4 linked regions of the Homo sapiens genome follow. The protein of the gene in region 4 interacts with the protein of the main gene of each other region in a pairwise test. Each region holds a gene or a part of one and is shown on either strand. Other genes may lie near its edges.

Region 1 (7,224 bases), on a different chromosome or scaffold from region 4:
GAAATAACAAAATACCATTTCTAACCCATGAGACTGACCAAAACTTAAAAGTCTGATACTGTCAAGTGTTAGTAAGCACTATTGTGGGCTACTGACAGACCTGTGAACTCGTAAAGTCATTGTGGGGAACAACTGATCATTATCCAGTAAAACTGAAACTTGCAATCCCTTGCACCCTGCAATGCCATTACTGGAGCACAGAGGCATGGAGACGGATGGTCACTACAGCATTGTTTGAAATAGAAAAAACTAGAAACAATTTAAGTGTCCAACAAAAAGGGAATAAGTAAAATGGGGTATATGCCTACTGTGTAGCAGTGAGACTGCAACAGGCCCATACACATATCTACAAATAGGATACTTTACACTTTCAGAGAAGGAACACACTACAGGAGTACCCTACAGTGGCAGGATTGAACCAGCATTACACACATAACAAGGACAACTTCCCCAAAGGTAAAGTTATATGAAGAGGCAAGCTACAGGTGACACTGACAGTATGACACCACTATGGAAACTCTAAAAAGCCCACACAAACAATATCATATGTCATTCAAGTATATCTATATAAGCCATAGAGGTATAAAAATGGTGCAGTGGCACAAAACAGACTCATGATTCACAGTAGTGTTTGCCTCTAGAGAGAGAAGAGGAGGAATAGGACTGAGACTGGGGAACAAACTTTATCTAGAGTGTCGCTTTTTCTTTTTTAAGAGATGAAGTCTCAGTTTATTGGCCGTGCTGGAATGCAGTGGCTATTCACAGGCACAATCATAATACACCACATCCTCAAACTCCCGGCCCCAAGTGATTCTCCTGCTTCAGCCTCCTGAGTAGCTGAACTACAGACACACCCGACAGTATTTTTTACATATACATATATATATACACACACACACACACATATATGTATATACACACACATATATATAGCTTAATGTACACTGTTTAATGTACTTGATGTTTACAATATCATTCTGGAAATGTCCTAATATTTGTTAAATTTCTCAAAAGAAAAATAAGATGTCCACGGAATTAAAACATTTTATGAATAATTAAAGAAATTAACGAAAGATTCTGACTATAAATAAAATTCCTATATATAAAAAGCCAAATGAAAGCTCATTGGAATGAAAGAGAAAAAAAGAAAACATTAAAATTGACATAACAGATACGGAAATGCTTGATTTTTAAAAACAGTATCTATTATTCAGTTGGTGACTTTTACATAATCAACAGTCTTTACAATTTGAGGGGTATTTTTTACTGCTAACTTGAACGAAACTACATGAGTACCCCAGGCAGAAACAGTATGAATACATAAATCTTTTCTAATGTGTCCAACTTGCCTTCAATATATTGCTGGTATTATGCCTGAAATTTTATTGAACAGCTCAGAAAATATGCTTGCTTTGCCAGTTCACGTACCAAAAATGGAACCCTAAATGATGCTGATGTTTTGGGGCTAAGTATTTCCTTAGAATTGTTATGGTGCCCAATGCAGGATGTCACCTTACAGGCACTGCGTTTCCTCTGCCTCACAATCTTCACATTTAAGCATTCTACTGCCGGTGGCCACCTTCCAAGGCACAAGCCAAGCTCCATCACATCTGTGAGCTGACGCTTAGCTCTCTGTAATGCTCACATTCATTAAACACAGATTTTTAGGAAGTGGAACGGAAATTACCTGCGATTCACTTCTGGGACAGTCACCTGATGTTGCCATAGTTCTCTTAGGCTCTGCCTCATAACTGCTGATTTATTTCATTTTCTTTTCCATTTCTACTTTTAAAAAGAGAAGGAGACACAAAGTACTTGTTACATTGCTTAATAATTGAGTTCACTTAACTTCTAATGTGCATGATGTCCTCTACCAAATAGAAGTAAAATGTGTATGTGTGAAGATTAGTGTAGAAATGAAAATTTACAATACTTTACAGAGACAAAAGCATTTAAAAATCATAAACTTCAAATAGTGTGTTTTCTTCACTAGTCTGCAAGGTGTTAATCTTGTTCATTTGCTGAAGCCTGTTAGTTTCTGTTAGATCAGGTGTCGACTTAAGGCAATAAATCAGTATTCATTAATTTCTTAGAAGTGTGATAGCTTTAATTCCAATTAAAAGTCCCTACCTGGGACCTTACAGTGTTTCCACTAACAGGAACCAAGGTCTGCATCTTCCAGTCTTTTCCTTCTTCTCAATTCGTATTTTTCCAGTGATAGTGTAATCCACACACTGCTCTGGGATCAATGTGTTTTTAAAATTGCATAGCAATTCTTTGTTTAAAATGCATGCTTCACTTCTAAATCCAGACTTGAAGCTTATTTTTGTGATATTCGTAGTTACAAATGCTTACTGATTTGCATAATTATATTTTCATTGGAAGACCTGGGTCCAAACTGGGACGGGGTCGGAGTGGAGGCCGCAGTGCGCGCAGGACCCTGCCCTCCTAAGATGCCCTCGGGAGGAACAGGATCATGGAGGGTTGGAACAGGTGGCCAGTGAAGGGGGGTGAGAAGGGGGCAGGAAGCGAGAGGGCCACGCGTGGACGCAGGGGCACGAGAGGGTCAGGCTGGGACAGCGCCGCGAGCTTCGGGGCAGGGGCCGCCAGGCAGGTGGGCGTGGCCGCGAAGGGCGTGACAGAGATGGTGGTGGGGTGGGCGTGGCCGTAGAAGGCGCTGGACGGCGGGAGTGGCCGGGAAGGGGTGCGGCACGCAGGGAAGGGTGTGACGGGGACCGAGCTCCCGTTTGGACGCCAGGGAAAGTGGCTGAGATCGCGAAGGCGCTCGGAGGTCCCAAAAGGGGGCGGAGGCCTCTGTCCGCCAGCGACGCACACGCAGTGCGAGGACGCCTCACCTGGCCTGTCCTTCCTTACGTGCAGTCCAGCCATCTGAGCTGCCCATCAGGACACCTACCTCAATCGCGTTTCTCCGCTGAGTTCCGCGTCCACACCGCCAGCGCGGAGGGGTGGACGGTCCTTTCCAGGAGCCTGAGCCACCGCCCTCAACCCGCGCAAGCGCAGTGCACGCAGGCCGTCAGCCGGGAAGGCCCCGCCCAGGGCCCGGCGCCCCGCGCAGGCGCAGTCCTAAGACGTCCCCCATTCCAGGGAAGCCAAGCCACCGCCCTCGACTTGCGCCGGCGCGTCGCTCACAGATCGTCTGCAGCTGGGGCTGCGCCCCGCGCAGGCGCACTTCACATCTGCGCGTCCCGCGGTCTTGCGAGGCGAGGCCAGGTTCTCCATGTGTGGAGCTCGTCCCCAATCGCCCAGCCCAGCCGCGGGGTTGGGGGGCTCGGCTTGGGGTCCGACCCAGAGGGGCGCGGGGCAGGAGTCCGACCTGGGGCGGGGGGCGGGTTTGGGCCATTCACGGCTTGGGAAGCGACAACCCCTACGAGCCACAAAATGGCTGGGGCTTGGGGGACCCCCCACCTCCTCTGTCTTCCCGCAAATAATTCAGTTAACTTTCCCATCCGCGCTGCGCAGTGTGCGCCCTCTGCCTTTCTTCTGGATAAGTGGAAGCAGAATGATGACGTTTCTGTTGTGGGGAGAGGAAGTTTGGGGTTAAGGAGAAATGGGTGGCGCTAATGCCTGTAAAACATAAAATTCGAAGCCCCCCCTCCCCCGCAGCCGTCTGACTGGACTCCCTCCTTTACCAGGGGACCCTGAAGTTCAACCTGAGAGACTATTCTGGCCTCGAAGGGAAGTAAGAGTTGGACATGCCTTTTTACACTCCTCCAGCATTAACATCAAGGCAGACCTTAAGTCTGATTTAAAAAAAAAAATGTGGAAGGAAAATAAATTTGGGGGCCGCAAAATCATTAAGCTTAAAAGGAAAAGTCAAGTTGGGAACTGCTTAGGGCAAACCTGCCTCCCATTCTGTTCAAAGTCATCTCTCAGCTCACTGAGATAAATGCGTATCTGATTGCCACCTCTGGAGAGGCTAACCAGAAACTCAAGGGAATGCAATGATTTGTCTCATATTTACCTATGACCTGGAAGCTCCCTCCTGCCTTTGCTTTGAGTTGTCCCGCCCTTCCGGACCAAACCAATGTTCATCTTACATATATTGATTGATGTCTCATGTCTCCCTAAAACGTATAAAACCAAACTGTGCTCTGACCACCTTGGGCACATGTCATCAGGGCCTCCGACGGCCGTGTCATGGGCGTGCATCCTTAAATTCAGCAAAATAAACTTCCTAAGTTGACTGAGATCTGACTCAGATATTCAAGGTTCACATTTTGGTAACCACAAAGGGATTCTGAGTAGAGGTGCCACTGACCTTTGACAAATCTGTCAGTCCTTAGTACCAGCTTGAGCTATCTTTATGGCTCAAACCAATAGGACAATTTGCTGAGGCCTGGAAGCACCCCCTCCAGAGAATCCCTGATCTACCCAGATTTAGTCAAGATCTAGTTTATTTTGCTGTACAACTCCTTTTGTGTGTTGGGCGGGGGTTGGGGGGCGGGGTGTGCTTTACTCTCTTCCAACATAAGGAAGTAGTAGTTTTTTCCTGCTTCCATGACAATGGAAGGCAGGTAACTCGTTTATGGAGTTTGAGCTCGCTTCCCACAGGAAAGATGAGGGGTTTTCTTCCTCTGCTTCTAGGGTGGTAGAGAGCAATCTTCAGCCTCAGACCCATCCCTAGGAAGTAACTGAATTGGGGTTTGTCTTGGCTATTAAGATTAACAACCAGCTGGTCTTAATTTCTCCTTACCATTAGTGTGCTCAGTAACCTTATAAATTGCCCAATCCTTCGTTTCGCTTAACTGGTTTTTTTGTTGTTGTTTCTGTTTTTTGTTCTTTTGTCTTTTTCGCATTGAGTTTGACGAACTCTATCTGACTTGATCGAAACCAAAGGAAAGTTCCAAATTATGAGAAGTGAGGCCTCTGAAGTGGCTAAGTTTCAACCCCTCCCCACCACACACACACACACAAAAGGTGATGTGGTGGGGGGAGAAAAACAGCTAGCAAAAGGAAAAAGAAAAAAAAAATTTATTTTGACTACTTAAAGGGCTTTTCTTACATAACAAGGCCACATTTTTGCTAGCCAGACCAACCAAAAAGAGTAATGTCTGTCACCCCACACTGCAGTTCCATACCTAAGGGTTCTGCCTTCTTTTTTTCCACCACCACAGCCTGGGTTTAGTTCCTAAATTAAGCCCTTTCTGGTTTGATACTTGGTACTTCTGAAATAGCAGCAATTAGTCCTAGCTGAAATATGATAATGAGATTTATTTATTTATTTAGACAGAGTCTGGCTCTGTGTTCCAGGCTGGGGTGCAGTGGCACAATCTCAGCTCACTGCAACCTCCACCTCCCAGGTTCAAGTGATTCCCATGCCTTAGCCTCCTGAGTAGCTGGCATTATAGGCCTGCACCACCACACCCAGCTCATTTTTGTATTTTTTTGGTAGAGATGGGGTTTCACCATGTTGGCCAGGCTGGTCTCAAACTGGCCTCAAGTGATCCGCCTACCTCGGCCTCCCAAAGTGTTGGGATTACAGGCATGAGCCACCATGCCCAGCCAGTAATGAGATTGAAAAAGTTTATTTTTAAGGAGCTCAATGGTTAAAAGCTTAATTAAAAGCTAACATCCAACATATGTGTGTTGTGTGCCTGTGTGTGTGTGTTTGTATTTAAAAGGCTTCCAGTTTTGTTTTTTTTGTTTTTTTCTCTCCTAGGACCTTGTCTTTTTGAGCAAAAGTTTTTTTCTTCTTAGTTGACTGGCTTCTGTTTTCTTCATTTACTTTTGTCGTGTCTTCTTTCTCTTGCACCCTCTGCTTCATGGGAAACCTAATATAGTTTGTAATACCCAGGGTTCCTTACAGAAAACGGAGAAGGTGCCAGATTCCCCTTGGAGGAGAAACCTCTGTTTCCTTATGGAACCCCAAATGTGTAAACAGACAAGTTCATCTCAGCTTTTTTTTTTTTTCATCTCAGCTCTTAAACTGCTTGCTTTTGTATTGTGTTACCTAATTTTTTTACTAAAATAGTTACTGCAACAGAGGCTACTCTGGAGTTCTTAAGGAATAGTATAGTTTAGACATGTAGAAATGTCTTTGTTGAAAAAAGTTTTTTAAGTGCACTGTAAAAGCATGATGTAGTCTAACCTCATAATAATTTTCGCTTTTTGGAGACCCAGGATTCAGTGTAGGGTCTGCCCAGAGCTCAGAGATCCAGTTAAAATATAGGGAGTCTCTGTCTAAATAAAACTGGTCTCCTTATACAATCCTATGATAGATTTTCATAATTTTATGTTTGATTTCACATCCATTTTTAATCTCTCTTTAGCACCACCAGACTTTTTCCTCTCTGTACCTTAAAATGTAAATTTTGCTATCTAATTTTTCATCTAATAGTTTCCTTTAATATGCAGATTTAGGGCTATTTAGCCGGCAACTGCCAGGGCAATGACACAGATGATCAAGAGTTTGCAAGTCTAAGATAGAAAAAAAAAAAGAGGTCTTAGGAATCTATAAGATGTACTTCTATCGGTATACCTAATACATCTATGTATTTATGTGTTGCGTACACAATGTTTCTCTATTAAAAAATATAGAAGAGCTATAATTAATTGGCTTAAAGAAAAATAAAAGTGCTCAAATAAATTATTTATTTATTAATTAAAGAAAAATAAAAGTGCTCAAATAAAATACTTTATTAGAAAAAGGGAAAGACTAGTCAAATGTTAAGTTTACTTAAAATCTTTAATAAATAAGTTAGCTTTAAAAATAGTGGCAAAGTAATTTAGAAATGTCTTAAGAATTGCCAGCATACATTTTTGTTTGCATTTATTTATCAAGCAATTTCCTACTTATCCCTGCCAATTACTATAAGGTGTCAACATTTGGCATAGGGGTTACAAAACTATAAACCCAGCCCCAAATGGAAGAACATAAATGGCCTGATGGAGCTGAAAAACACAGCACGAGAACTTCATGAAGCATACACAAATATCAATAGCCAAATCAATCAGGTAAAAGAAAGGATATCAGAGACTGAAGATCAACTTAATGAAATAAAGTGTGAAGATAAGATTAGAGAAAAAATAATGAAGAGAAATGAACCCTTCTCAAAAGAAGACATTAATGCGGCCAATAAACGTGAAAAAAAACTCTTCATCACTGGTCATTACAGAAATGCAAATCAAAACCACAATGAGATATCATCTCACACCAGTTAGAAAGGTGATCATTAGAAAGTCAGGAAACAACAGATGCTGGAG
Region 2 (7,022 bases), on a different chromosome or scaffold from region 4:
TTATGTTGCCCAGGCTGGTCTTGAACTCCTGGCCTCAAGCAATCCTCCTGCCTTGGCCACCCAAAGTGCTGGGATTATAAGTGTCAGCCATCACACCCAGCCCCTAAGGGGCATATTTCTACCTGTTTAGTTACAGATAACCCTAATAACAATATTTTAAAGCACTAAAAATGCTATGACTGACTACTTTCCCCCTCAGCCATGCAGAGGGGCTTGGCCTCTCCAGAGTTCTAGAAATCTCCCACAGATTAAAAAAGTAGTAAAGGTTAATAAGAGAGGTCTTATGGTTAATGTTTCCTCTACCTGGCCGTGCTGGTATACAGGCTACTTGGAGCCTGGCTTGAAGAGGCGCTCGTGGTGGGGGTGGACTCATAATCAGAAAGGACAGGCTCTGACCCAAACTGCAATGCCCCAAACTGCAGGTTTAGCCCTGAGATATCTGCTGAGCCAGGCATCTCCACAGCCAGAGCAGGAATCTATAAAGTTGAAGGAGAAGAGAAAGTAATGGCTTTAATACAACCTTACTAAAGACTAAAAAAAACCCTTCCCTTTAAATTTCCAAACTTACCCTTTTAATCTCAATTCTCAAGCCCCACACCCCTTGCCATAAAATGGTATCTACCTAAAAGTTTAAGTACCTTAGAAGTCAAGGAGGCTTTTTTCTTCTGCTGTTTCAGTTTCTGCTGAGCCGGCTGAGGGCTAGAGGACTGGTTGTCTGAAGATCCAGGCGACATCTGTGGAGCCGATGTGGATTTGCTTGGCAGAGGAGAAGACGGAGGTGGAGGTGCAGCTGTGGAGGTAGCCACTGCAGGTGACTTCTCCTGAAGGAACACCTCCATCATGGTTGAAGATGGGGTAAAAGCCTGGCGCTTTGTAAAGGGGCTGTGCACTGCTGAATCACTTGGGTTCTTCAAATCTGCAAGAGGAAACCCAGTATATGAAGCCAGAGATGCTAATGAATCTCAAGGAAATGCTATTGTCCTGCACTAGCACCATGAATGAGGACTGTAAAAATCAGAAACTCATATAAGCAGGCCCTCTTTTGGGGCTTAATCTCATTTCTATAGGTGACAATCACTGGATTACATCTTTTTTTTTTTTTTTTTTTTGAGATGGGAGTCTTGCTCTGTCACCCAGGCTGGAATGCAATGGTGCAATCTCAGCCCACTTCAACATCCGACTCCTGGGTTAAAGCAATTCTCTTGCCTCAGAGTAGCTGGGACTACAGGCGCGCGCCACCATGCCTGGCTAATTTTTGTGTTTTTAGTAGACACGGGGTTTTGTCATGTTGGCCAGGCTGGTCTCGAACTCCTGACCTCAAGTGATCCGTCCGCCTCGGCTTCTCGAAGTGCTAGGATTACAGGCATGAGCTGCCGCACCTGGCCTACAACCATCCTTAAATAAAGCCTAACTAAATCAACATTACCCTGTCTGTGTAAGACAGGAATGCACAAATTGTCCAAGTTTAAAGTACCGCAAGTTCTCATTTAACATCCATAGGTGCTTGGAAACTGGCTTTAAGCAAAAACAAGGCATGGCATATCTTGGCATAACGTTGTTTCCTTCAACATGATTTCATTATAATGTTGATGAGGAAAAAAAAATGGCCAGGTGCAATGGCTCACGCCTGCAATCCCATCACTTTGGGAGGCCAAGACCAGCAGATCGCCTGAGCCCAAGAGACACACCTGGGCAACACGGTGAAAACCCATCTCTACAAAAAATTAAAAATTAGCCAGGCATGGTGGTACAAGCCTGTGGTCCCAGCTACTCAGGAGGCTCAGGTGGGAGGACTGCTTGAGCCCAGGAAGATGAGTGAGCCAAGATAGTGCCACTGTACTCCGGTCTGGATGACAGAACTAGACCTTGTCTTATGTTTCGCATAAAGTCGCAAGAACCTATCAATGACATTAAGTGAAGACTTACTGTATAAGGTCTTAAGATGGCTAAGCCTAAGAACCTGGAGGCAATATGTTATTTTCAAACACTGAAGATAAATCTAAGGAGAATAATAATAATAATTAAAACCCCAATCAACAGAAGACTGCAACTATGTATATGGTTAAAAATTTTTCTTTTTTTTTTTTTTTTTGCGGAAAGCTAGCTTCACACTAGCTCACCCTCACTAGGGGCTGGGACCACAGGTGCACACCACCGCACTCAGCTAATTGAAAACAATTTTTTTAGAAATGGAGTCTTGATATGTTGCTCAGGCTGTTCTTGAACTCCTAAGGCTCAGGCTGTCCTCCCACTTCAACCTCCCAAAGTGCTAGGATTACAGGTGTAAGCTACCATGCCCAGCCTCTAAATGTGATGAGAAATACATAGCCTCAAATTTTATTATTCCCCAACTTCTTGAATTCAGCTTATTTGATTAGGGGAAATACATGTGGGAAGGTAACCAACTAGCTGCCCCTTTTCTTCACTTCAGGACACATTCTCCACCCCCTCCCCCTGCTAGCCTCTTGACAGTAATGCTCCAATGCTTTAAAGATTCAAGTCACTTTCCATCTTCTCACCATACTGCACCAGTGATGGGGATTGTGTCGTCGAGCCCATGTCCCAAGAGGAGGTGGTGGTGCTTCCAGACTGAGAATGCTGAGCTGCCAACTGAGCCAGGGCTTGGGCAGTCTTGAATTGCTCCAAGAACTGGGAGCCTGTAGTACTGCCGCCTTTAGCTTCACCGACATCACCAAATCCTTTCCCTAACATGCTCACCTGTAGATCAACAAAGAGATGAGAGAAACCTACAGCCAGTAACCTTGTTCAGCTACTCATAAAGACACTTATCCAGACCGAGAGCCAGTATAGATCAGGCAAGTAAAGAATACTGTCACACTGAGTATACAGCATAGTCCACTAGAGTATAGGACCTAGAGTCAGACTGTCTTAGATTGAAATCCTGGCTATGTAAGCTTGGAAAAACTATTTTTTAATCTCTCTTTCCTCATCTGGAAATAGGAATAAAAGTAAAGCTGTAGGAGGATTAAATAAATTAAAGCACTTAATACATGTATGGCACATAGTAATCACTAAAAAAACAGAGCCATTAAAACTTCATATCATCATTACTTCCTTCTCCCTGCTTCTCAGGGATAAAATTTGGCTGACTGGAGAATTTTTGTTTTTGTTTTTGTTTTTGAGACAGAGTCTCGCTCTGTCACCCAGGCTGGAGTGCAGTGGTGCTATCTCGGCTCACTGCAAGCTCCGCCTCCCAGGTTCACACCATTCTCCTGCCTCAGCCTCCCGAGTAGCTGGGACTACAGGCACCCGCCACCACACCCGGCTAATTTTTTGTATTTTTAGTAGAGACAGCGTTTCACTGTGTTAGCCAGGATGGTCTCGATCTCCTGACCTCGTGATCCACCCGCCTCGGCCTCCCAAAGTGCTGGGATTAGAGGCGTGAGCCATCACACCCAGCCGAGAATTTTTAAATCAACCAATACAATTAACATAAATGTAATATAAGATTTTACTTTTGCCATTAAGGTCCTTGCCCTTCTCATTAAAAAAACTCAAAAGAAACAACAATTAACTGGAGCCTCATCTCGATGCTGCTAATAACTAGCACAGAGGCAAAAAGGAAAAGTTAAAGGGCATCCCAACTTCTGCACTAGACAATCAAGTAGCAAGTCAGTATGATTTGATTGTTTTCTCCATGTACATACAAGTTCTATAGGGTAATCACTGGGCCGAATGCGGTGGCTCACGCCTGTAATCCCAGCACTTTGGGAGGCTGAGGCGGGCAGCTCACCTTAGGTCAGGAGTCCTAAACCAGCCTGACCAACATGGTGAAACCCTGTCTCTGCTAAAAATACAAAATTAGCCAAGCGTGGTGGCGGGCGCCTGTAACCCCAGCTACTCAGGAGGCTGAGGCAGGAGAATTGCTTGAACCCAGGAGGTGGAGGTTGCGGTGAGCCAAGATCGCGCCATTGCACTCCAGCCTAGGCAACAAGAGTGAAACTCTGTCTCAAAAAAAAATAAAAAATAAATAAAAAATAAAAACAATTAAAATTACCTAGTGTTCACTGTATTATACATAAAAATATAAAGAAACTCCCATGTTATTTAGCTCTATTAAATTTTAAGTGAAATTAATCCTCTAACATTTATTCTCAATAGAAAGGAAATTACATTATCTAACATATTGATTAGTACAGGCAACAAAAAAACAGAATAGTATTTATACTTAGTTTTCACATTTTTATTTAAAAAAAATTTTTTTTTAGAGAAAGGGTTTCATTCTGTCACCCAGGCTGGAGTACAGTGGTGAGCTCAAAGCTCACTATAGTCTTGAACTCCTAGTCTCAAGCAATCCTCCCACTTCAGCCTCCAGAGTAGCTGAGACTACAGGAACGTGTCACTGTCCCCAGCTGAAAACATCTTTTTGATATCAAAAGTCTGATTTCGTTGTAAATTTTCACAATTCCAGACATTAAGAGGGCAATTAAGAGACATAGATCACATAATCACATTTTCCAGTCATTTATCTTTAAGGGTTGGTAGTTACTTCTTGATCTTCATTACACCTTCTTACAACCTTTGTCCTATTTTCTTTCTTCTTTTTCTATTTAATCCCAACACTTCTCTCCATTTCCCTTCTCCTCCCACCTCTTCTCACCTGTTACCTTTCCTATGTGGCAGGACATCGACCACCAAATTACTAACTTAACACACACAAAAAACATTTTAAGACAACAATTAAAAACTGACCGAGTTCTGAATTAGTAGCTAGCTTGGCAGTTTTCTAGTTAAACTAATTACTCTAACTGGAAAAATAAAATTATATGCACACACATGGTCTGCTTACAACTTTAGTATCCCTCCATCAAAAAATAGGAGAGAAAAAGAGAAAAAAAGAAAAAGCAGTACTTCTCAGGACTCAATGACTATGAGAAAACTGGTACTTGTAGCATCTTTGTTTAGTTTAAATGATTCCTTTGATGTCGTTAATGACCTTGGATGTTTTAAATGCTCTGAGTCAACAAGTAATATGTCATAAGTTCTAAGTTATTTATAATATCACTACTGAAACCACACTTGTATAGCCACCTTTGGGAAGATGGGAAGGACTAGCACTTTTATCCCTATTTACATAGAAATGGAGACACAGCTAGTAAGTGGCAGAAATGGGAAGACCATAGGTTTCTGGAGGCCTTGTCTACAAATACCTGGTTTAAGTAAATATACAAGACAATTCTGATCCATCAAGAAATGGGGAACTGCTACAATCTCCCATCATAGTTTAATGAGGGCTGCAAAAGGATTAAAATGTATTGACAAGTTTATGTCATTGATTTTCTCTCAAGAGTAATGGCAAATGGTGTTCATTCAGCACAATGAGTAGTCAATAAATAATGTTAACTTATTCTTATAAGAATATTCAGTCTGTCCAGAACTAAGTCCTCTCTTAGAGCTACCCCCTATTACCCAACTCAAACATTTCTACAACCAAGTCTGCTTAAGAAGACAAAGAGGATGCTTCACCTGCCAAAAACCTGACTGTCTTTGGAAGGAACTGTGTATGTGTGCTAGGATTAGCAGGAAGGTTTGATTAGGATAAACCACGTTTCCTACTCACCATACTGTGATGAGAAAATGTGTTCCCTGAAGCAGGCTGTGATATGGCAGTCTGCTTCGAATTACTGAACACCAGAGGCTGGGCCAGAGAAGGAGCCTGAGACGGATCCAGATTAGATGAATCATTCTCCATTGTAGATGGTGTCTTCCCCAGCAGAACAGCAAGGTCAATTCTAATGGGGAAGGGAAGGGATCTTCATGAAGAATGACTGAACACGCTAACATTCCCCAACACTCAAATCAGATTAGATCAAAATGAAGCCACTTGCTGGGGCTTCTTCTAAAAGGGTTCAAACACAAAAGCCTTGAAATGCTTAAATGTCCCAAAATAACTGATGCATAAGAGTCACTACAGTATATAGCTGAATTCCACTGATGTTGCCAATAATAATGGTTAATTTTTTAAGTGAAGTTATTAATTTAATGAAATATCAAATGCTAGTTTTTGTTTGTTTGTTTGTTTCGAGAAAGTCTCGCTCTGTCACCCAGGCTGGAGTGCAGTGGTGCAATCTTGGCTCACTGCTAGCTCTGCCTCCTGGGTTCACGCCATTCTCCTGCCTCAGCCTGTAGCTGGGACTACAGGTGCCTGCCACCACGCCCGGCTAATTTTTTTTTTTTGTATTTTTAATAGAGAAGGGGTTTCACGTGTTAGCCAGGATGGTCTCAATCTCCTGACCTCATGATCCGCCCGCCTTGGCCTCCCAAAGTGCTGGGATTACAGGCGTTAGCCACCGCACCGCACCCGGCCTCAAATGCTAGTTTTAACATGGCAGCTCAATAACTCAGCCAAAACTTACAAGTACTTATCCATGATTTTAATACTGAATACCTGTCATTACCAATTCCTAAAACAGAAAATCATATACCAGAACACTGGAATCTTCAAATGGCTTTAGAACAGGGGCAGTCTGAGAGATATTTTTTCCCACAATTTTCGTAAAATTTCAAAAGTTACCTGTGGTATAATATATACTTGAGCTTTGCCTTGTTCCTGGCATGGAGCTCCTAAAACATTTAGAATTTCCTAAGTGATAGTGTCCTTTGTTACTCATAACACACTTCTTTCAACCATACCTGAATGCTAATGAGGTAGCCCAGGGTGGGGCCCCAGATAGTTTCAGGATGAGGGTTGGTCACTAGAAAGACCAGATAAGGCTGGATGCAGTGGCTCACACCTGTAACTCGGCACTTTGGGAGGCCAAAGCAGGCGGATACTTGAAGTCAGGAGTTTGAGACCAGCCTGGCCAACATGGTAAAACCCTACTAAAAATACAAAACTTAGCCTGGCGTGGTGGCGGGTGCCTACTATACCAGCTACTCGGGAGGCTGAGGCAGGAGAATCGCTTGAACCTGGGAGGCGGAGGTTGCAGTGAGCCAAGATTGTGCCACTGCCCTCCAGCCTGGGCAACAGAGTGAGACTCTGTCTCAAAAAAAGAGACCAG
Region 3 (6,847 bases), on a different chromosome or scaffold from region 4:
AAATTTGCAGATTGCAATCCCTCCTAGGTTTTTCTTCAAGGTGGAAAAACTTCAACTCAAATTTTACAATTCATTTTTTCATTTTTTCTTTCCATCACAGACACTAGGAAGGGATTGTAAAGTGGTTATGAAATCCAAACGCCCACCAAAAACGGGAATCCCCTGCCCCTCCCCCTCCCCCCACACCACGCAAAGGCCCACAGCGTCCCCGACAGTCTGAACATTCCAATAGCGGGAACTCAGTATTTGCTAAGGCAGCCATTACTGGAGAGCGCTCTGGTTGTTAGAAAGCTCTTCCTTACAGTATTGCAAGAGGAACCACCGCCCCTCCTTGCCTGGCAGCTTTCCCACCTCACCTCTGTTGGCTGAGGCCAGGTGACGGTGGAGGGGGTGTCAGTGGCTAGAGCTTTAGCAGACTCAGCAGCCCCCCACCCCCACCCAGGCCCTCAGCGTCTTCCACTCAGAGAGCCAAGCGCGGGGCAGGGCGGGGGGTGGGGCGGGGGCGGGGTGTTAACCCACCGGTTCTGCCCCGCCACAAATCACTTCCAAGTCGGTGACTCAAAAATAGTAACAGTTGTTGGGTTGCATCTCATTTCCATGTTATCAATTTAATGTGGCAAGGCACAGAGGTAGTCCCTTTAGGTCCCTGCCTCTTTCTCAGTGTTCCCCCACCTACTCCCCTTTCCCACGACCCTCAGCCTGCCCCCTCCTCTAGATTCGCAGCCCTAGTTGTCCCAGGAGAGACTGTGGGTCTCCGTGGGAGCTGAGCAGGAAGAAAGGCGGGGCCGGCGGGGGCAGCCGCGGCGGGGTTGAGGCCCTGAGGGGCAGCTCCCACCCCGTAGCAGCCTCCGCAGGTCCTGGCGGAAGCGCAGGCCCAGGAAGGCGTAGAGAACGGGATTGAGGCCACAGCGGGCGAGGGCCAAGCCGCTGGTCACCAGCAGTGCGACATCCTTGCGTTTGCTGGCAGGGCAGCTCCGCTCGCGCGCAGCCAGTAGATCGGCAGTATCCAGCAGCAGGGCGAGGCTGTAGGGCAGCTGCAGCACCACGAAGGCCGCCACCAGAGCCACCACGACGCGCAGCGCACGCCGGCGCTCGGGCCCCCTGGCGGCCAGCAGCGTGCGGCCCAGAAGCGCGTAGCAGGCTACCATGACGCCCAGCGGCAGCGCGAAGCCCAGGGCCACCTGCGCCACGGCGCTCGCCCCCTTCACCGTCTGCGTGAGGCCCTCGGGGAAGATGAGGCGACAGCGTCGTTGGCCTTCCCGCTGCCCATCCTGGCTGAAGAGCAGCGCAGGCAGCGCCAGGAGCAGTGACAGCAGCCACACGATGACGGAGACCAAGTGTGCGCGGCCGGGAGTGGAGGGCCGCGGCCCGGCTGGGAGCGCTCGCGCGATGGCCACGTAGCGGTCGGCGCTGATACAGGCCAGGAAGAGGAAGCCGGCGTGGAAGGAGGCCGAGTAGAGGCCAGAGATGGTGCGGCAGGTGGCACTTCCCAGACTCCAGCCCTGAAGAGCCCCTGCTGCCGCGAAGGGCAGAGTCAGGGCCAGCAAGAGGTCGGCCAGGGCCAGCTGGAGCAGGTGGGCAGAGGTGGGCGAGCGCGCTGCGCGTCGGGCTGCCAGGTGGGTGGCCAGGACCAGGCCATTGCCGGCCAGACCCAGCGCAGCCACGGTCAGGGAGACACTGGGTTGGAAGGCCCGGCTGAAGGCCTGGACATCGGCCTTGTAGCAAAGCTCCGGCAGTGGCTCAGCCGAGTATGCGTCCTCTTCATCCCCAGAGTAATGGCCCCAGGAAACCTGGGAGGGTCAAATGAGAGGCGGGATCTTATGAGACACATCTGACCACACAACTCCCCCGCCCACACTTGCCTTCCAAGCTGAGAGCTCCTGTGTGGCCAGATGTAACAGTACACGGGGAGACATAAGCTCTTCTCCAGACTCTTCCTAGCACACCTTCAGCAGGCCTTGGCTTCCCTTGCACCCCTCCTACCTCTGCTTCCAGCTTCCTGGGTGACCTTGAGCAAGCCACTTGCTCTTTCTAGACCTCAGTTACCTAACCTGTAATGTTGAGATTATAAATCCTGACCAGCCCACCTCTCAAGGTTTGCTGTGAAGATGGCAATATGGAAAATAATGGATGGGGAGAACCTGTGTTCTCCAAAGGCCATAATACAAAGTTTGTATTATTATTATTATTTATTATTATTATTATTGGAGACAGAGTCTTGCTCTGTCGCCCAGGCTGGAGTGCAGTGGCACGATCTCGGCTCACTGCAACCTCCGCCTCCGGGTTCAAGAGATTCTCCTGCCTCAGCCTCCCAAGTAGCTGGGACTACAGGCGCCCACCACCACGCCCAGCTAATTTTTGTATTTTTAGTAGAGATGGGGTTTCACCATGTTGGCCAGGATGGTCTCGAACTCCTGACCTCAGGTGATCCGCCCACCTTGGCCTCCCAAAGTACTGGGATTACAGGCCTGAGCTACCACGCCCAGCCCAAAGTTTGTATTATTAATAAATCCTACAGCTTCAGTTCCCTTTGCAGCGCCCTCTCCTGGAAGGATGCCCATATGCAGGCTTTGCCTCAGACCTGAGCCCTGGACTCCAACCTCCGTCTGGAGTGGGTTTCTGTTTCTCTTCTTTCCCTTCCATACCCACCTTCCCTGTACCTCCAATACCAGCACACTGAACCACTCATGCCAAGGGGGTCTCCAGGGTTGGGACTCAGGTTTTCAGGGCCCAGGTGGGACCCTGGACCTCTAGGTTCAACCCGCCTTTCCCCTCAGCCCTAGTCCCTGTCCCACAACCCCAGCCTCACACCACCAGCCCATTTATCTGGAGGACCCCTAGTCTGAGACAGCGCCAAGAATCCTGAATAAGCCATAGGATGGCAGAGGCCCATTGCCAGGTGGGGAATCCCATTCCTTCCCTGTCTCCTCCCTCTCTGTAACCCTTCTCCCCCTCCCTGCCCCCACTCCCACCTGCTCTGTGGCCTCCGTCCCCATCTCTGGCTACACAGGTTTCTGAGGTATAGCCACAGGGGGTAGAAGTTAAACTACTAGCGGGACAGGAAGGAAGAGGCGGGGAGAGGGGCCGAGAGGGAGGTGGGGATTAGGGTCTACGGGGTCACTTTCCCATTCCACCTCCTCCAAAAGACTTCACTCTCTTGTGCAGGATCTGGATTTTACGAAAAAAAAAAAAAGAAGAAGAAAGGAAGGAAAGAGGAAAGAAAGAAAGAAAGAAAGAAAAAAAGGAAGGAAAGAAAGAAAAAAGAATGAACGAAAGAAAGAAAAAATAATTTACTGTCTTTGTCAGTGAAGAAAGAACGGGCTTCGGAATATAATCATTTGCTGTGTGATATTGACTAAGTTTCTTGACCTCTCTGAGCCTGAGGTTTTTCATCTGCAAAGTGGAGTAGGGCAAAAATGCTAAATTCACAGTGCCCAGCACCACTCCTAGAGCATAATTTGCCTTCCGAAAATGTTAAGATTCTTTTACTTACCCTTCATTCCATTTCCAGGCACCCCTCCCCCAAACCACCTCCCTTTTCTTGAAATTTTCAGGATGCTTCTGGCCCTAGGTTCCCTGTCCTCACTCCTGTGGCCCTAGTCCCGGGCAGCCTCGGGTTACTTGGGGTTTTCCCGGTGGCGAGAGGCTCTCTACCCCCGCCCTTTCGCAGCAGGGCTGAGGCACGCGCTTGCGCGGGGTCCGGGAAACCGGCGCGTGCCAGGAGACAGAGGCTGGGGAAGGGGGGAGGTGAGAGGAAAGAGGGTGGAAAGGAGAGGATAGAGAGAGAAGAGCGGAGGACCAGGAACCAGAGAGAGAGAGAGAGAAAAGAGAGAGGAGAGACAGAGCGCTTGGGGGCGAAAGGAGAGAGGGAGGGAAGGGTGGGTAAGGAGGAGAGAGCGGTCTGCTGCAAACCCCAGGAGGAGAGCTTGGAGCCCAAGCCAGAACTCGAGCCCTAGCCGGAGCCGTTCACAGGGAGGCGGCTGCCGGGACCGTCAGCCCTGCATGATGCATCTCCGGCTCTTCTGCATCCTGCTCGCCGCGGTCTCAGGAGCCGAGGGCTGGGGCTACTGTGAGTGTTGGGCTTGGAGGCAGGTGGGGTTGGGCCCAGGAGTCCAGAGCCTGCAGGGCGGCCCCGAACCGCATTGCGGCTGGGTGGTCGCGGGTCCTTCCCGGCCGGCGCGCGCCCGCTGGCTCTCATCTTTTCCTGCCTCTCCCCCGCGCTCCGCATTGCAGCTCTGAGGCTGCCGCGCGCGCCCGGGGCTGGGGCTGGGCTCTGGGAAGAGGATGAAGTCAGCGGGCAGGGATTTGGGGTTGGGATCCAAGCAGGAGCTGGTGCCTGGGTTTGAGGCTAGGGCTGGGGGATAAGTGTATACTGGTGACCGATACTAGGATTAAGGTTTTGCCAGGGCTTAAGGCTGGACTTTGGAGCTGGCCAAGGGGTGGGGTTTGTGGCTAGGGCTGGGGTTTGTGGCTGGGGCTGGGTTTTGTGGCAGGGATCCAAGCAGGAGCTGGTGCCCCTGACTGATGCTAAGGCTGGACATGGAGCTGGTGATGGTGCTAGCACTGGCTGAGGTTGGGTGCAAGGCCTGTATTTGGGGATGGTGCAGGTTTTGGGGGCCGAGTTGGATTGAGGCTAGGGTTGGAGCTGGATTGGTGTCTTGGGTTGACTTAGGTTGTGGAAGATGCTGAGGTTTAGGATTGAGTTTGGGAAAGTACTAAACCAGGGCAGGTATTGGGCTAGCTAGGGAGGGTCTGGCCTTGGGCCTATAGGTGTAGCCTAGGGGTTTGCCTAGAAGGAGAAGGTAGCCTCCTCTGAGCATGCAGCTGTTGCTGCAGCCAGGATTGAATAGATGGCTTTAAGGTAGGGCTGGGTGTGCCTCTGGGGGCGGGGGTTGGGGGCACGGAAGGGGAAGCTTCGGTCGCTAAGTGGGCCGGCCTTTGGAAGGGTCTGGGAGGGGCCAGCGCTGACTAACAGTCGGTTTCCCTACCCTAGACGGCTGCGACGAGGAGCTGGTGGGTCCCCTGTATGCACGCTCCCTGGGCGCCTCCTCCTACTACAGTCTCCTTACTGCGCCGAGATTCGCCAGGCTGCACGGTGAGCTCCGCGGAACATCAGCTGCCAACTGGCAGCGCACCGCGGAAGGGTGGGGGCCTCCGGAGGACTTCGGGGAGAGGGATAGCCGGTTAAAGCTCCTGTCCTTTCTATAGGCATAAGCGGGTGGTCACCACGGATTGGGGATCCGAATCCCTGGCTCCAGATAGACTTAATGAAGAAGCACCGGATCCGGGCCGTGGCCACACAGGGCTCCTTTAATTCTTGGGACTGGGTCACACGTTACATGCTACTCTACGGCGACCGAGTGGACAGCTGGACACCGTTCTACCAGCGAGGGCACAACTCGGTACTCTGGGCGCCAAGGCGGTAACACTTGGGGAGCTTCCTCTGCTCCAGGCTCTGGGCCGGGCACCAGCCTCTGGGAAAATGGAGGGGGTGGTGGTGAGGGCTCGGACAAGGAGCAGTGACTCCACTCCAGGGACTCTGTCCAGAGGGACTGTCAGCTTAGGACGTGCGCGAAACACTCGGTTCACAGGGTTTAACACACTTTAGGGTAAAACCTGGGAGAGCTTCCTAAGGAGGTGACATTTGATTTCAGGTCTGAGGAAATAATAGGATTGTGGGACAGGGCACTTTATGGAAACTGTGCGGGCAAAGCCGCCAAGCAGGGAAGACCAAGGAGTGTTTACTTTCCAGAAGTCGAGATTGGCTGGGTGTGAAAGTTGTGGGCTGGGAGGCTATGGAGAAAGAAGCAGAGGGGGGCCGGGCGCAGTGGCTCACGCCTGTAATCCCAGCACTTTGGGAGGCCGAGGCAGGTGGATCACGAGGTCAGGAGTTCATGACCAGCCTGGCCAACATGGTGAAACCCCGTCTCTATGAAAAATACAAAAAAATCAGCCGGGCGTAGTGGCGGGCGCCTGTAATCCCAGCTACTTGGGAGGCTGAGGAAGAGAATTGTTTGAACCCGGGAGGCAGAGGTTGCGGTGAGCCGAGATCGTACCACCGCACTCCAGCCTGGGCGACAGAGCGAGACTCTGTCTCAAAAAATAAAATAAAAAAAAGAAGCAGAGGGCAGGACGTGGTTACTACTCTCCTCCACCCCCGCAGACCTTCTTTGGTAACGTGAACGAGTCGGCGGTGGTGCGCCATGACCTGCACTTCCACTTCACTGCGCGCTACATCCGCATCGTGCCCCTGGCCTGGAACCCACGCGGCAAGATCGGCCTGAGGCTCGGCCTCTATGGCTGCCCATACAGTAAGTGTGCAGAGAGCGCGGAGGGGGCCTGGGAGACAGCCTCCCCAGTTCCCGGCCCACCTACGGTCCTTTGCGCAGAGGCCGACATACTCTATTTCGACGGCGACGATGCCATCTCCTACCGCTTCCCGCGAGGGGTCAGCCGAAGCCTGTGGGACGTGTTCGCCTTCAGCTTCAAGACCGAGGAGAAGGACGGTCTTCTGCTGCACGCCGAGGGCGCCCAGGGCGACTACGTGACGCTCGAGCTGGAGGGGGCACACCTGCTGCTGCACATGAGCCTGGGTGAGCTCGGCGACCATGTGCGATGCGGAGCCAACCCCTGAAGCTCTCTCACCGCCCTCCTCGTGGCACCTCCTCCGCGCATCCGCGCTCAGCCTGGTCTTCCACTTCTCTAAGGCCTGGACCAAACTGCCCCTTTCTTGTAGCATTTGGTGCTAGCAAAACACTGGAGTTGAGTGAGAACTGGATTCCAGTCTCAGCTCTACCACTACACAGAGATGTGACCTCGGATGGGGCACTTCCGAGCCTCAGTTCCC
Region 4 (7,606 bases):
AGAGAGGGTCGAAAATGCCTCATGTGGGAGATCTGATGGCCTCCTATCCTGGGACACATTTATACATGTTGAATATTTTATTACCTACTTCCTCCAAACTTCTCTTAGAAGGGATTCCTTCCCCTGCCCTTAATAATCTCTGAAATCGCGCTGATTGTGGTGGCTCACACTTTGCAATCCCAGCACTTTGGCAGGCCGAGGCAGGCGGATCACCTGAGGTCAGGAGTTCAAGACCAGCTTGACCAAAATGGAGAAACCCTGTCTCTACTAAAAACACAAAATTAGCCGGGTGTGGTGGCGCATGCCTGTAATCCCAGCTACTCAGGAGGCTGAGGCAGGATAATCGCTTAAACCCAGGAGGTGGAGGTTGTGGTAAGTCAAGATCACACCATTGCACTCCAGCCTGGGCAACAGGAGCTAAACTTGGTCTCAAAAAAAAAAAAAAAAAAAAAAAAATCTATGAAATCCCTATCAAGAAGGCTGAGATATGTAACATTCAATACTTTTATGTGAGATTGGTTGATCATGAGCCTGCAAGAAGCAAGCTGGCCTCAAAGTTTCCCAAATCCACATTTATTTTCCTCCAATTCTTACGTGTCCAAAGACAGGGAACCACAGACACGCCTTTGTAGGAGGATAACTGGTGTTCACCCAGAGCCCACACCCCCTTTAAAGGACCCAGTGTAAAGTTGGGAAATCTCCTCTAGTCTTTTGGTATTTCTACTACAGCCACTTCCCTTTAAAGAGCTCTAAAACGTATGCCCCATGCATGCCTAGCTTTCAACCATCAGAAGCATCTTTGCAGGACTCTCACCAGCGGGTTTCTGGATCTCTAAGGACTTGCCCTTATACGTATCAAACAGGTTGAGCGAGGAATACTTCTTTCCATCCTTTCCCTTGGCAGTCGGCCCCGAGCGATCGGACATTGCGCTGGAAGCTCATTGAGTATGTTGGGTCCTGCAGGCACCTCCCCCAAAACGTGCCAGAGCCTGTGGGCCAGACAGCAAGTGTCTCAGTCTCTGTCCCCTGTACAGACCATAACAGAAACTTAAAAACTCCATTGCATTATCATTAGGGACTCAGATATGAGGCCCTCTGGTGTCTTTTCCTCCAGTCTATGTAAACTGCCCACTCTTCTCAAGCAACCATGATCTACTTAGCTCCCTCATAGCTCAAATGCCATGTTCCCTCCTTTCCCCCAGACACCTTTGTCAAGGAAATCTAAGTAAAAATCCAGCATCCTCCTAGTATAAACACTCTGCCCTTTGTGCCTGTCTACAAAGAGTAATTCCCTACAAGTAATAATCTCTTCTCTCTCCACCAAAATCGTTTCAGAGACTTACAACAGGACAAATTCAAGCAAGAGAAAACTAAAAAAGAAGCATACAATTCCATCAGAGAAGAAGAAACAACACTTTAGATTCCCTGTTTATTGGACACAAGCTCCCTAATCATGCCCCCAGGGCCCTGTACCCCAGGCTCCCAGCCCAGCAGCCTCGTGTCCATCTGGGAAGGTTTGCAGGAAGGTATGCTGGGAGTTTAAGGATTTTATGAGCTTGCTCAGCCGGAATGGGGGTTGGTACCAGAGAAATCCTCATAGAACAACTAGGGCTGTACATACTCCCAGGCTATAGGAACCTCAAGTATTTGAAATATCCCATCTTTTCCTAAACTTGCTCCTGTATTGGCTCCTGGAAAAAATCGCCTCCAGATGAAATACTGTTTTACCATATGAAGAACTGAGAAAAAGCATTATGGAGCCACCTTAGCACCCTGTAACCATGGGCCAGAAAACAGAGGGCCAAGGCCAGAGCCATCTTCGTTTTCCTATCCTCATTAAAAATGTCCATCACCAGTGTTTCTTTACTCGATACCTCCAGCTCCCTAAGCAAGCCGGACGACAGGTCTCTCAGTCCATTCCAGAGTGACCAGGCATTCGTTTATGGACGGGAACAGTGTAAAGAGATGAGAAATAGTGGGGAAGAAAGCAGGGAAATCCAGACAGGCCCAGAATGAAAGCTAAAATTGGGGAGAAAGAACTTTATGACAAGCTAGAGATAAGATGGATGTTGCTTCGTAGGTGTTTGAGGAGGCCAATCTGTGAAGATAAATATATGAAGGGAAAACGAATACAAGAGTCATGTAGCGAATAGACCAAAACTAACAGAAAATAATGAATACGAAAGCAGGTGGAAAATATATGGAAACAGGAATGGCAAAAAAAAAAAGGATGTAGACAACGAAGTAAGGGGGCAGAGGCCCAAGAAGAAAAACGGGGTTGGGGGAGAAAGGAGACGAGGAACAGGAAAAATGAAAAAGCAGACATAGGGCGACTGAGCAACATAGAAAGCAAAGATGCTGGGATAAAAGCAGGATTCTAGAGTGGGAGTGGCTCGACACGAAGAGGGGCGTCCAGAGGGGGGAACACAGCGCTGGATGATAGGAGGGGGTCCAATATGGAGGAAAAGCGCCCTTCCGAGAGAACCGTCGGGCGCGGCCCACCACCACGGGGCGGCAGCCGGGGAGGGGGCCCACAAATGGGGGTGAAAAGCCAGGAGCGCAGCGGAGGGTAGGGAGTTACGGACCCAGGCGCAGGGGTCACCCCCTGAAGCCAAGACGGTGGGTGGTTAGGGGCAGACTACGGATCCTGAATGAACTGCCGGAGGTGCGGGTCCCGGAGTAGAGGTACCGGAGGGGGAGGGGCAAGCAGGCCCGGCAGCAGGAGGACAAAATGGCGGCGGCTAATGGCAGCTTCTCCTCCCCCCGGCCCACCACCGCCGCCGCCGCCGCCACCGCCACCGCCACCACCTCTCCCGCGCCGGAAAAGGGCGTCAGCGCACGGTTCACCCAGACTCACCTGGCCGGGTGCGCGGGGATCCGGGACCCGGGCCTAGGGGCTCCCCGGGACGGGATGGCGGTGGGGCGGGGGAGGATGGCGGCGGATGGCGCCGGGTTCGGCTCCTCCCGTCTCCCTCGCTCACTCCGCGGCTGAGCCCCGACTAACGGCCCATCCGGGCAACCGCCGCCCCCGGGAGCACCCCCTCCCACCTCCCACCTCCCTCCGCGCCTAGACACGCCCCTTAATTTGCATAAAGGGCGGGGCACTTTCTACCCTAACCCTCTACTTCCAGGGCTGTCTTTAGTTTAAAAAAAAAAAAAAAAGGGCCGGGCGCGCGGAGCATGCGGAGGTTATTTGCATAAAGAGGAGGGACTTAAGGGCACTAGGACCCCGATTGGCTAAGGAGGCGGGCCCCCAGCGTCGGCCGTTGAGCCGTGTTGAGGGGGCGGGAATGCGGTGCAGGTCGGCTGGGCGGTTGGGACGCAGAATTTACACGACGAATGTGGGAGAAAGAGGCGGAGCGTGCGTCGGACGTTAGTAGAAAGATGGGAGCGGAGAGACGTTGGGACGCCAAAAGTGGAAGGCAACGACACACGGCCCGTGGCGCCTTCAGCTAGGGAGAAAGAGAGAGAGGACGGGGGCTGGCGGGCGGGATTAGCTGCCGGAGGGCTGAGTTTCCGCAGGCCTGGTAAGAGTTCCAGCTCTCGCATCCCTTTGCCGTGAGTTTGAGGAGGTGGTTGGAGCGGGGAAATGCACCAGAGGGGCGGGGCCTTCCAGTTATTATATTACGTCATGCAAATGAGGTGGCTAGACAGACCAATCCAAAGGCCCCGGGAAGCGTTTCGTCCGCACCACGCAGCGTAGGCATTCTTCGGGCAGTTCTACCTATTTGCATAATGTATGCAAATCATTTGAACAAAGATAGGCTAGGAATGACTCGTTCATCAAAATATGGGCAACCATCGACTAAGACGGACATTTAATTTTATAACCTATAATTTTCATGAATAAATTTTTATATTTGAAATTATTGGGAATTTGTAATTTCTTAACAATGGGTTTCATTTTGTGAAATGCAGTACTGTTACCCTCCTTTGTCTCTTACTACCCGATTCTAGAACTCTCTGCTCCCATCAGAGTTATACCCATTCAACAGATCATTCAATGACTATGATTTGAAGGCGCTGGAGATAATGCACAGGATATTATAGAAGTAGAGAAATAAGGCCTGGCGCGGTGGCTCACGCCTGTAATCCCAGCACTTTGGGAGGCCTAGGCAGGTGGATCACGAGATCAGGAGTTCAAGACCAGCCTGGCCAACATGATGAAACCCCATTTCTACTAAAAATACAAAAATTTGCCCTACGTGGTGGCGGGCGCCTGTAATCCCAACTACTCGGGAAGCTGAGGCAGAGAATTCCTTGAACCAGGGAGGCGGAGGTTGCACTCCAGCCTGGGTGACAGAGCAAGACTACGTCTCAAAAAAAAAAAAAAAAAAAAAAAAAAAAGAAGGATGGGCGCGGTGGCTCACGCCTGTAATCCCAGCACTTTGGGAGGCTCAGGCGGGCGGATCACCTGAGGTCACGAGTTCGAGACCAGCCTGACCAACATGGAGAAACCCCGTCTCTACTAAAAATACAATTACCCAGGCGTGGTGGCGCATGCCTATGATCCCAGCTACTCGGGAGGCTGAGTCGGGAGAATCGCTTGAACCTGGGAGGCGGAGGTTGTGGTGAGCCAAGATCGTGCCATTGCACTCCAGCCTGGGCAACAAGAGCGAAACTCTATCTCAAAAAAAAAAAAAAAAGAAAGAAGTAGAGAAATAAAATATGATTATGCCTGGGGTGATTGAGAAATGTTTCTAGAAAAACTCTTATTAAGAGATATGAGGCCGGGCGTGGTGGCTTATGCCTGTAGTCCTGGCACTTTGGGAGGCTGAGGCGGGCAGATCACAAGGTCAAGAAATGGAGACCATCCTGGCCAACATGGCAAAACCCCGTCTCTACTAAAAATACAAAAATTAGCTGGACTGGTGGCGCGTGCCTGTAGTCTCAGCTACTTGGGAGGCTGAGGCAGGAGAATCGCTTGAACCTGGGAGACGGAGGTTGCAGTGAGCTGAGATCACGCCACTGCACTCCAGCCTAGCGACAGAGTGAGACTACGTCTCAAAAAAAAAAAAAAAAGAAAAAGAAGAAAAAAAGGGCCGGGAGCGGGAGCAGTGGCTCACGCCTGTAATCCCAGCACTTTGAGAGGCCAAGGTGGGTGGGTCACCTGAGGTCAGGAGTTGGAGACCAGCCTGGCCAACATGAGACTCCATCTCAGGAAAAAAAAAAAAAAATGATATGAAGAATGATCGGAGTAGATATCTGTCAAAAATATATAAATAAATAGATATGAAGAACGAGTTAGAACTTACCCAAGTTTCAGAAGAAGGTGTACATCTCAGGTGCAGAGAACAGATTAGTGGAGGCATGAGTTTGGGGGCCTGTGCCTAGGCTGATATGGCTAAATAAAGGAGGCGGCTTATTCATTATGAAAAGTGAAGGCAGAAAAGTTTGCGGAAATCAGATGAGAATTTTAGTCAGAGGCTCAGTAAGATTTAAGATGACTTCTGTTTTCAAACTTCCAAAATGATTCTCTTCTCCCTTCTCCCCGGCCGGCTACCACACATACCGTTTTGTTACCCTTTGCAGCAAAATTCTTAAAAGGGATGTCCATAGTCATTGTCTCCAATGAGTTTCTCCTTCCAGTCTTTTTTTTTTTTTTTTTTTTTTTTTGAGACAGAGTCTCACTCTTGTCACCCAGGCTGGAGTGCCATGGCGTGATCTCGGCTCACCGCAACCTCCACCTCCCGGGTTCAAGCGATTCTCCTGCCTCAGTCTCCCGAGTAGCTGGGATTACAGGCACCTGCCACCATGCCCAGCTAATTTTTTGTATTTTAGTAGAGATGGGGTTTCACCATGTTGGCCAGGCTGGTCTCCAACTCCTGATTTCAGGTAATCTGCCCGCTTCGGCCTCCTGAAGTGCTGGGATTACAGGCGTGAGCCACCACGCCCAGCTGTAAATTCTTTGCTTTATTTAATAGCACCAGTTCTTTCATTCATCTACCCATTCAAGTGTTTTTTGTTTGTTTGTATGTTCGGTTTTTTTTTTTTGAGACGGAGTTCGCTTTTTAGTTGCCCAGGCTGGAGTGCAATGATGCGATCTCGGATCACCACAACCTCCACCTCCTGGGTTCAAGAGATTCTCCTGCCTCAGCTTCCCAAGTAGCTGGGATTACAGGCATGCGCCACCACACCAGGCTAATTTTGTATTTTTAGTAGAGACGGGGTTTCTTCATGTTCGTCAGGCTGGTCTCGAACTCCTGACCTCAGGTGATCTGCCCACCCCATCCTCCCAAAGTGCTGGGATTACAGGCATAAGCCATCGGCCCCGGCTCATTCAAGTTTTAAACATTATTGAGGGCTTATGATATGTCAGGCACAATAGCATAGGTCACTTTATCCCCATTTTTAGAAAAAAGCCTCACAGAGGCTGAGTGATTTGTCAAAGTGACAAAGCTTATAGTGGTGGAGAATGTTGGTTCATGGTATTCCTTGCTCTTCATGAAATCTGTCATGGGCCTGAGTACCTTGTTTGGACATGTGTTTTTGACCTGCCTGCATTCTTTGAGGTTAAGGCTGTCTTACACAGCTGGAATCCCCCTTGGTGCGTGAAACCATCTGCTGTAGTGGACACACTATAGCGTTGTTGATGGATTGTTCATATGGCCAAATCCTTGCCACCTTTCCCTCAAGACCTGTCTCTCCTTCCCAAACCCAGGAAAAAAATCACCCAAATAAAAACTAAGCTGACTTGATCTGGAGGAGGGGGTAATTTATTTAATTTGTTGACTCTGGCTTACAATTTTGTCTTCTGTTTCCATATCTGGGTCATTAGAAGCCCCTTCAATCCCATCATCCCTTTTCCCTTCAAATCAGGGCAACTCAGAGATAGCTTTCTTGGCTGGGGGGCCTGTTGGCTTTTCCTTTTCTCTCGCTTTTTCCTCATACATCAGGATCCTGGTTGAGATGGGAAGAGGCACAGGGATCAGGGAACACTCCTCTCAAGGGAATAAATCATAGGGTGCTAGGAAAGGCTAGAAGGGGATGGGGATGTGAGGGTGGAAGGGGGAAGAGGAAGGGCAGGGGTTGGAGTTTCTGGGGACCAGGACTATGGATAGGGATGGGGTCGGGACCTTGGAAGGGTCCCTCTAAGGATGGAAGAAGGGATGATGGGCAACGTGTAGAAATGTTGAGCCTGTGGACAAGGGTAGGGATGGGGGAGGAGAAAACAGGTAAGTACAGGGGAGGTTGGAAATTGACACTCACATTTTTAGGATGGCAGATCTCTTGCCCAGCATCATCCTGAGAAAGTCAGGGTAGCTGAACGTCTCCCCGGAGCCACTGGACACCTCTCCAATTAATTTCTTTAGCTCTAGGTGAGTCTTGGGGACTCCAAGTTTCTCCAGCATTCGTTTCAGGGACATGATATCTGGGGGCAGAGGATGGGGATGGGGAGAAGGTGGGGAGACCCTCTCTCTCCTCTCCCACTTCCGCATCCCCATTCTCCTTCCTCCCACTGTGGTAGGTGGGCCCCCTCCCAAATCATGAGGAATGGAGCATGTAGGAGAGACCTCTGTCTTCTTAGGCCTGCACACCACCCTGCCCCCGCAAATCACCCGTTTCTCACCAATATCGCCATTTCCATTAAGGTCAAACTCCATGT

The links.
Region 1: the proteins of PRRC2A (region 4) and PRMT2 interact in a two-hybrid assay, tested with the Homo sapiens proteins (one study listed by BioGRID and IntAct).
Region 2: the proteins of PRRC2A (region 4) and UBAP2L interact in a two-hybrid assay, tested with the Homo sapiens proteins (one study listed by BioGRID and IntAct).
Region 3: the proteins of PRRC2A (region 4) and CCR10 interact in a two-hybrid assay, tested with the Homo sapiens proteins (one study listed by BioGRID and IntAct).

The regions. Positions count from the first base shown.
Region 1 is NC_000021.9:46,631,454-46,638,677, reverse strand, and holds the start of PRMT2 (protein arginine N-methyltransferase 2), read right to left. Parts: upstream 3,005-7,224; 5' UTR 2,915-3,004; intron 2,240-2,914; 5' UTR 2,131-2,239; intron 1,783-2,130; 5' UTR 1,727-1,782; coding exon 1,688-1,726; intron 1-1,687. UniProt on the Homo sapiens protein: Arginine methyltransferase that methylates the guanidino nitrogens of arginyl residues in proteins such as STAT3, FBL, histone H4. Acts as a coactivator (with NCOA2) of the androgen receptor (AR)-mediated transactivation.
Region 2 is NC_000001.11:154,244,935-154,251,956, reverse strand, and holds part of UBAP2L (ubiquitin-associated protein 2-like), read right to left. Parts: intron 5,754-7,022; coding exon 5,582-5,753; intron 2,719-5,581; coding exon 2,520-2,718; intron 917-2,519; coding exon 639-916; intron 477-638; coding exon 304-476; intron 1-303. UniProt on the Homo sapiens protein: Recruits the ubiquitination machinery to RNA polymerase II for polyubiquitination, removal and degradation, when the transcription-coupled nucleotide excision repair (TC-NER) machinery fails to resolve DNA damage.
Region 3 is NC_000017.11:42,678,828-42,685,674, forward strand, and holds CCR10 (C-C chemokine receptor type 10), read right to left. Parts: upstream 3,017-6,847; 5' UTR 2,997-3,016; coding exon 2,973-2,996; intron 1,791-2,972; coding exon 726-1,790; 3' UTR 62-725; downstream 1-61. Other genes in the region: CNTNAP1 (contactin-associated protein 1 precursor), read left to right, coding at 4,003-4,069, 4,994-5,095, 5,209-5,402, 6,164-6,311, 6,390-6,593. UniProt on the Homo sapiens protein: Receptor for chemokines SCYA27 and SCYA28. Subsequently transduces a signal by increasing the intracellular calcium ions level and stimulates chemotaxis in a pre-B cell line.
Region 4 is NC_000006.12:31,616,110-31,623,715, reverse strand, and holds the start of PRRC2A (protein PRRC2A), read right to left. Parts: upstream 3,002-7,606; 5' UTR 2,858-3,001; intron 1,027-2,857; 5' UTR 927-1,026; coding exon 815-926; intron 638-814; exon of another isoform or gene 506-637; intron 1-505. Other genes in the region: AIF1 (allograft inflammatory factor 1), read right to left, coding at 7,206-7,606. UniProt on the Homo sapiens protein: May play a role in the regulation of pre-mRNA splicing.